Homo sapiens: one gene and its partner. The protein of the gene in region 1 purifies or fractionates together with the protein of each later gene. This does not show direct contact. Each region holds a gene or a part of one and is shown in the gene's direction. Other genes may lie near its edges.

What was found.
Region 2: the proteins of LIPK (region 1) and ABHD17B purify together in Homo sapiens (affinity purification with mass spectrometry; one large-scale study listed by BioGRID and IntAct). This does not show direct contact.

The regions. Positions count from the first base shown.
Region 1 is NC_000010.11:88,747,459-88,751,295, forward strand, and holds part of LIPK (lipase member K isoform 1 precursor), read left to right. Parts: intron 1-3,837. UniProt on the Homo sapiens protein: Plays a highly specific role in the last step of keratinocyte differentiation. May have an essential function in lipid metabolism of the most differentiated epidermal layers.
Region 2 is NC_000009.12:71,869,680-71,873,516, reverse strand, and holds part of ABHD17B (alpha/beta hydrolase domain-containing protein 17B), read left to right. Parts: intron 1-3,254; coding exon 3,255-3,434; intron 3,435-3,837. UniProt on the Homo sapiens protein: Hydrolyzes fatty acids from S-acylated cysteine residues in proteins. Has depalmitoylating activity towards DLG4/PSD95. Has depalmitoylating activity towards GAP43. Has depalmitoylating activity towards MAP6. Has depalmitoylating activity towards NRAS.

The DNA.
Region 1 (3,837 bases):
CAAAATATGCAAATCAATATGTTTCAGGCATCACATAAACAGAACTAAAAACAAAAATCACAAGATTATCTCAATAGACACAGAAAAGACTCTTAAGAAAATTCCACATCCCTTCATGTTAAAAACCCTCAACAAACTAAGCATCAAAGAAACTTACCTCAAAATAATAAAAGCCATCTCAACAAACATATGAAAAAAAGCTCAACATCACTGATCATCAGAGAAATGAAAATCAAAACCACAATGAGATACCATCTCATGCCAGAGAGAATGGTGATTATTAAAAAGTCAGGAAACAATAGATGCTGGCGAGGCTGTGGAGAAATAGGAACACTTTTACACTGTTGATGGGAATGTGAATTAATTCAACCATTGTGGAAGATAGCATGGCTATTCCTCAAGGATCTAGAATCAAAAATACCATTTGACCCAGCAATCCCATTACTGGGTATATACCCAAAGGAATATAAACCATTCTACTATAAAGATACATGCACATGTATGTTTACTGCAGCACTGTTTACAATAACAAAGACATGGAACCAACGGAAATGCCCATCAATAATAGACTGGATAAAGAATATGTGGTACATATGCACCATGGAATACTATGCAGTCATAGTACCATGCAGCCAATGAGATAATGTACTTTGCAGGGACACGGATGCAGCTGGAAGCCATCATCCTCAGCAAACTAACACAGGAACAGAATATCAAATACCACATGTTCTTACTCATAAGTGGGAGTTGAACAATGAGAACACATGGACACAGAGAGGGGAACAACACACAGCCGGGCCTGTGTGTGAGGGTTGGATGGCGAGGGAAGGGAACTTAGAGGATGAGTCAATAGGAGCATCAAACTACCATGGCATATGTACACCTATGTAACAAACTTGCACATTGTGCACATGTATCCTGTCTGAGGCGGGCAGATCACTTGAGGTCAGGGGTATGAGACTAGCCTGGCCAACATGGTGAAACCTCATCTCTATTAAAAATACAAAAATTAGCTGGGTGTGGTGGCAGGCACCTGTAATTCCAGCTACTTGGGAGGCTAAGGCACCAGAATAGCTTAAACCCAGGAGGCAGAGGTTGCAGTGGGCTGAGATTGTGCCATGGCACTCCAGCCTAAGTGACAGAGCAAGACTCCGTCTCAAAAAAAAAAAAAAAAGAAAACAATAATAATATTAAATGCCATTTCTGACAAACCCACAGCCAACATAATACTGAATAGGCAAAAGCTTGAAGCATTCCCCTTGAGAACTGAAACAAGACAAGAATGTCCACTGTCACCACTCCTATTGAGCATAGTACTGGAAGTCCTAGCCAGAGCAATCACACAAGAGAAAGAAATAAATGGCATTCGAATAGGAAGAGAGGAAGTCAAACTACTTCTTTTCATGGATGATGTGATTCTATATCTAAAAAACCCCATAGTCTCATTCTAAAGGCTCCTTACACTGATAAATAACTTCAGTAATGTTTTAGGATACAAAATCAATGTACCAAAATCAGTAACAATGTCCAAGCTGACAGCCAAGTCAAGAACATAATCCCAATCATAATAGCCACAAAAAGAATAAAATGTGAATACAGCTAATCAGGGAAATGAAAGATCTCTACAATGAGAACTTTAAAACACTGCTCAAAGAAATCAGAGATGATACAAATGGAAAAACATTCCATGTTCATGGATAGGAAGAATCAATATCATTAAAATGGCCATACTGTCCAAATCAATTTACAGATTCAATGCTACTCCTATCAAAATACAAATGACATCTAACACAGAATTAGAAAAACTATTTTAAAATTCATATGAAACCCAAAAGAAGCCTGAATAGTCAAGGCAATCTTAAGCAAAAAGAGCAAAGCTGGAGGCATTACTTGACTTCAAACTATACTACAAGGCTACAGTAACCAAAACAGCATGGTATTGGTACAAAAACAGACACATAGACCAATGGAATGGGTTAGAGAACCCAGAAATAAAGTTGAACACCTGCAATCATTTGATCTTCGACAAAGTTGACAATAACAAGCAATGGGGAAAGGATGGTCTATTCAATAATTGGTGCTGAGATAACTGGCTAGCCATATGCAGAAGATTGAAACTGGACCCCTTCTTTTTCCCATATACAAAAATTAACTCAAGATGGATTAAAGACTTAAATGTATAACCTACAACTATAAAAACCCTAAAAGAAAACCTAGGAAATACCGTTCTGGACATAGGACCTGGCAAAAATTTCATGATAAAGATGCAAAAATTTCATGATAAAGATGCAAAAATTTCATGATAAAGATGCCAAAAGTAATTGCAACAAAAAACAATTGACAAGTGGAACCTAATTAAACTAAAGAGCTTTTGAATAGCAAAAGAAACTATCAATAGAGGAAGCAGACAACCTAAGAATAAGAGAAAACATTTTCAAATTATGCATTTGACAAAGATCTAATATCCAAAGTCTGTAAGAAACTTAAGCAAACTAACAAGCAAAAAAACCAAACACCCCCATTAAAAAGTTAGCAAAGTACATGAACAAACACTTCTCAAAAGAAGACATACATGCATCTAATAAGCATATGAAAAATGGTCAATATCAATAATCATTAGAGAAATGAAAATCAAAACCATGATGAGATAGCATCTCACACCAGTCAGAATGGCTATTATTTAAAAGTCAAAAAATAACAGATGCTGGTGAGGTTGTGGAGAAAGAATGGTCATACACCACTGGTGGGAATGTAAATTAATTCAGCCATTGTGGAAAGCAATGTGACAATTTCTCAAAGAACTTAAAACAGAACTATGATTTGACTTAGGAATCCCATTACTAGGTATATACTCAAAGGAATATAAATCGTTCTATCAAAAAGACACATGTACCCGTATGTTCATTGTGCACCTATTCACAATAGCAAAGACATGGAATCTAGATGCCCATAAGAGGTGAACTGAATAAAGAAAATGTGGTACATATACACCATGGAATACTATGCAGCTATTGAAAAGAATGAAATAATGTCCTTTGCAGCAATGTGGATGCAGGTGGAGGCCATTATCCTAAGTAAATTAACACAGGCACAGAAAACCAAATATCACATGCTCTCACTTATAAGTGGGGGCTAAACATTGAGTTTACATGGACACAAAGAGGGGAACAATAGACACTGGGGCCTACTTGAGGGTGGAGGCTGGGAGGAGAGTGAGGATTGAAAAACTACCTATTGGGTACTGTGCTCATTACCTGGATGACAAAATCATTTGTAAGCCAAACCTCCATGATATGCAATTTACTTATGTGGCAAGCCTGCACATGTACCCCCTGAATCTAAAATAAAAGTTGGAAGGGGAAAAAAATCAACCAGAATACGACCCAGGTTTCCTGGATTTAAAGTCTAGTCTTCTCCACTACACTTATTCCTTCTCAAAAAAACAAAAACAAAAAACAAACAAACAAACAAAAAACATGTTTGTTTTTAAAGTATATTCTCTGACTTCTTATCTATGTTTAATAACTAAGACTGCCTAATAGTTCTTTAGGATGTCATTTACTAGCCACTTTTTAAATACCATTATATGGATCATTAAAGATATAAGTAAGAAGTATCATTTTTAGGAGGTAGTAGTATCTGCCAGGGATAGTGTGCCTTAGCATGTCATTCCCTAGCAAATAGTACTATTTTCGATCTGGTGTGTCACCAGATCTACGAAAACTTTTAGAGAAAAGTTTTATATTAAAGGGAAATGTGTATTGTTATTGTTATTTTATTCCCAAGTATGTGAGGAAATCCAATAATGATTTTGGCTTCTTGCCGATAGACTGAGCT
Region 2 (3,837 bases), on another chromosome or scaffold:
CTGAGGCAGGAGAATCACTTGAACCTGGGAGGCGGAGGTTGCAGTGAGCTGAGATCACACCACTGCACTCAAGCCCAAGTGACAGAGTAAGACTCTGTTTAAAAAAAAAGAAGTTTTAATGTTATGATAAATTGTTTAATAAAATTTTCTTACTATGTCAGTTATTCTTTGATTATAGCAGCATACATTTTGGGGAACTAGAAATTGCATTAATCTTTTCTAGTCACCAAGATACCTAAACATTTTTCTTGAAAAAAAAATCACAATTTGGTAGACTTCAGTGTATTATTAGTCAGGTTAGTGTACAATAAACAGATACCTTAATATAGGCTATTCTTTATATTATATGAAAATAAAATATCTGACTTCCAGGATGTTTTAGACTGAAGCTATAGGATATAAAGAAAACTTACTGTTTCTAATTTAATGTTTAAATATTAAAGATTTCATTTAGTCAGGAAAAATTTCCTCAATTTTAATAATAAAGTAGTTAATATTATTAAAGATATTAAAAATATCTTTAAAACTATTTTTCCCTCCAAAGAAATGTAATAAAGTTATGCTCTCATAGCGAAGTTCTACATAAAAGGGATTCTTAAAATCAACTGAAATTATATAAAAACATAAATATGGGGAATAAGGAAAAAAAGATGGCAAGTAGTAGGTAAAGAGTTGATGGGGGATGGTAAAGTTATTGTTTAATTGATAAATTAAAAACTGCTTTAAATAAAAATCTTTTACATATATTGATATCAGTTCCATCAAGCCTTAAAACAAACAGAAACTGAGTGCCCACTTTTTAGAGTCAGTCAGTTGAATAACGTATAACAACTATAAGAAAGTATTATAATTAAAAAAATAGCTTTATTGAGTGATAAGGTTCACACTTTTAAAGGTTAACTTCAGTGGAATAATGAAGTTTTAAAGGGTGCTAAGTTAAAACTGATAGCCAGCTTTCATTATTAGTGCTTCCCAGTAACGCAAAAGGGTCACTTTACTCAAACAAAACATGTTAGTATTCAGTTCAGTGTTCTGTGTCTATATGAAAAAATCCCATTTTTTAAGTGGTCAACTTTACTGTTTTTTTCTTTTCTTTTCTTTTAATCTTGGCATTTACCAATTTGAAGAAAACTTTGAAAAATGATTTTCAGCCTTAATTTTTTTAACATATTTGATAGCCAGTGTTAATCAGGAATGGGCAGATTTCATCAATAATCCCACATACTATTTTAGCACTTATATTTTAGAATTTTAGACCTGTGTTTTCTTTCGTGTTGAAACCAAAATATAGTTGGAGTTTCATAAGTGTAGGTACTTTAGGAAATATTACTTCTCTGAGCCTGTGTTTCCTCATCTGTTTAATGAAGAGATTGAATTAAATGATCCCCAAGATCTTTTCCAATTCTGGAATTCTGTCATCTAATGAAATGTGTGTAATTAGAATACATGCCTTTTATTTTATTTGCCTGATTAAAAGTTAGGACTTAAGTAACCAGGAGAGAGAAAATAAATAATGAACTTAAATAATGTTCATTTTTGGGATGAATGAACATTGGAATGTCCTTTTTGGGAAAATTGGATATCCATAATAACTCCAATTTCTGACCTTCTGATGGACCAAAAGAAACTCGGGGCCTGGCATTCACTATGCACCTTTCCCACAAAGTCCTTGAGTTCCTCATCTGTGTGCTTCAGAGGTAAAAAACACTGAACTGGGAGTCAGTATACCTGGGTTCTAATTATAGAGCTGTCATCTACTGGTGACTTTGAAGATCTGCTCATTAGGCAGCTGGACTCTAGATTAGATGGTCTCTAAACTCCTTTCTAGCTCATACTGTTAGGCAGTTGTTACTCTTGTGAGTCCCCTCATGCTTAATTGTCAGCTACCTCTGCGACTCTATCCTTGAGCATTGTCATTGCTAGCTGTAGCCCAAATTTCATGATTGCCACCAACAATGCTGATATTCAGCTGACAGCAACAATGCAGCCTCAAGAACTGTGGTCATGCTGCAAATGTTCATTCTCCTAATTTCTTCATTCGTATGAAATATGTGCAACTAGGTCTGTTGTAAAGAAAAAAGCTTTTCTGAGTTTGCTAATATTTAGAGTCAATTTGAAGTAGACAGAGCCCCACTTTCTGTGTCCTATACAAATGCTTGTGTAGTACTGACTTGAAGAAACTATATGGGGAGAGCTGTGTTACTACCTGTATAGTTGAAATAGTATTATGCCCCTGGAAGAGAACACACGGACAGTTTCCCTCGCTCTTTCCTGGTGAATATCCAGATTCTTAGAAAGATATTTTACCTTTGCAAAAGATTTCCAAAAGCAGCTGTTATGTTCTTAGCTGCCAGAGTGACTGCTGTCTGCCTTCTAAGTGGAAAGGTGTATTTAATGTCACTATAACCTTTAAGCCCACATTCATTAGCTCAGGTAGCACTGTACTTACACTTGCAGTAGTTTACATTTGGGATGATTATACTGTAGACAAGTAGCAAGCAGTTCCTTGAACATACTAGGTACCCAATAAATATTTATTGAGTCAATGAGTTTTCATCTATTTAAACCTGTGGCCATTTTAAAGGGATTAAAATAGTACCTTGTAATTTTAGCGTAAAGTCTAATCATAAATAATTGGACCATGTGGTGTTTGGAATTCTTTTTTATCTTTTCAACCATTAGTCCATTTCTACAACTAAGCAAAGATCAATTTTAAGAAAAATCGTAAAATCATAATTTGCCCTTTACTAAAACCATACATATATTCATTTCATACCATAACTATATGTAACAGTTCATCAATATGACCAATTTTGGAAATTAAAATGAGCCACTCTTGATGTGTGGAGAAATAAATAACTTTTGTTACACTGAACGGAAAATAAATATGACCTATTCATTCAACATCAGTTCATTAAAATATTAGTGATATGCCCCAAGCTTAGTCAGCAGTAAGCTAGGTTGAAATATTATAGTGTAATAAATTATTTAATAAATTTATTTCTTAAGATTGAAATCTTAAAATACCTCAGCAATTATTCTTCCAAAAGATGAAGTAGAGAAACACATGAAATAAACTGATGATACAGACTTTATTGTAATGTTAAAACTAACAGTAATAGCTAAGAAACTTAAGTTTAAAAAATGGATTAGTTGACATTGTCTTATTCTAAGATCAAATCCTTTGGAATGATGGAACATTTCATATCACTCCAACTTTTTTGGTTTTTGTTTTTAACGCCTGAACTTTGTAGATATGGCATTCGCCCTGAAAATGTGATTATATATGGCCAAAGTATAGGGACAGTACCGTCTGTGGATCTTGCTGCTCGATATGAGAGTGCTGCTGTTATTCTTCATTCTCCTCTGACTTCGGGAATGCGAGTTGCCTTTCCTGATACCAAGAAGACCTACTGTTTTGATGCATTCCCAAAGTAAGTAGCAATATTCAAAATAGTTAAATTCCAAGAAACTTGGGAATTTTTTCATCATTTAAAGTATTCATGACACAGTTCACTCAACCATAAACTTCATTTTATATATATTAGCACATAGAAATTATGAAAAATTAATTTGTAAAGAGGGTATTAGCAGGTGACCAGTCAGAAGGCTGAAATGTTTGAGGAGTAGTAATCCAGATGAAAATTGCTGAGGGCCTTACACCTCAGGTGGTGGCACTAGTATTGGAGACAAGGGAATTAATTTGAAACATAAATTTGACAGAACTGAGTATCAGACTGGGTGTAGGATGCTAAAGAGAAAAACTTGAACATGACTACCATGTTTCTGCCCTGAGGTGCTAATGGATAGGGCCATCCAGTGAGACACTTGATGTTA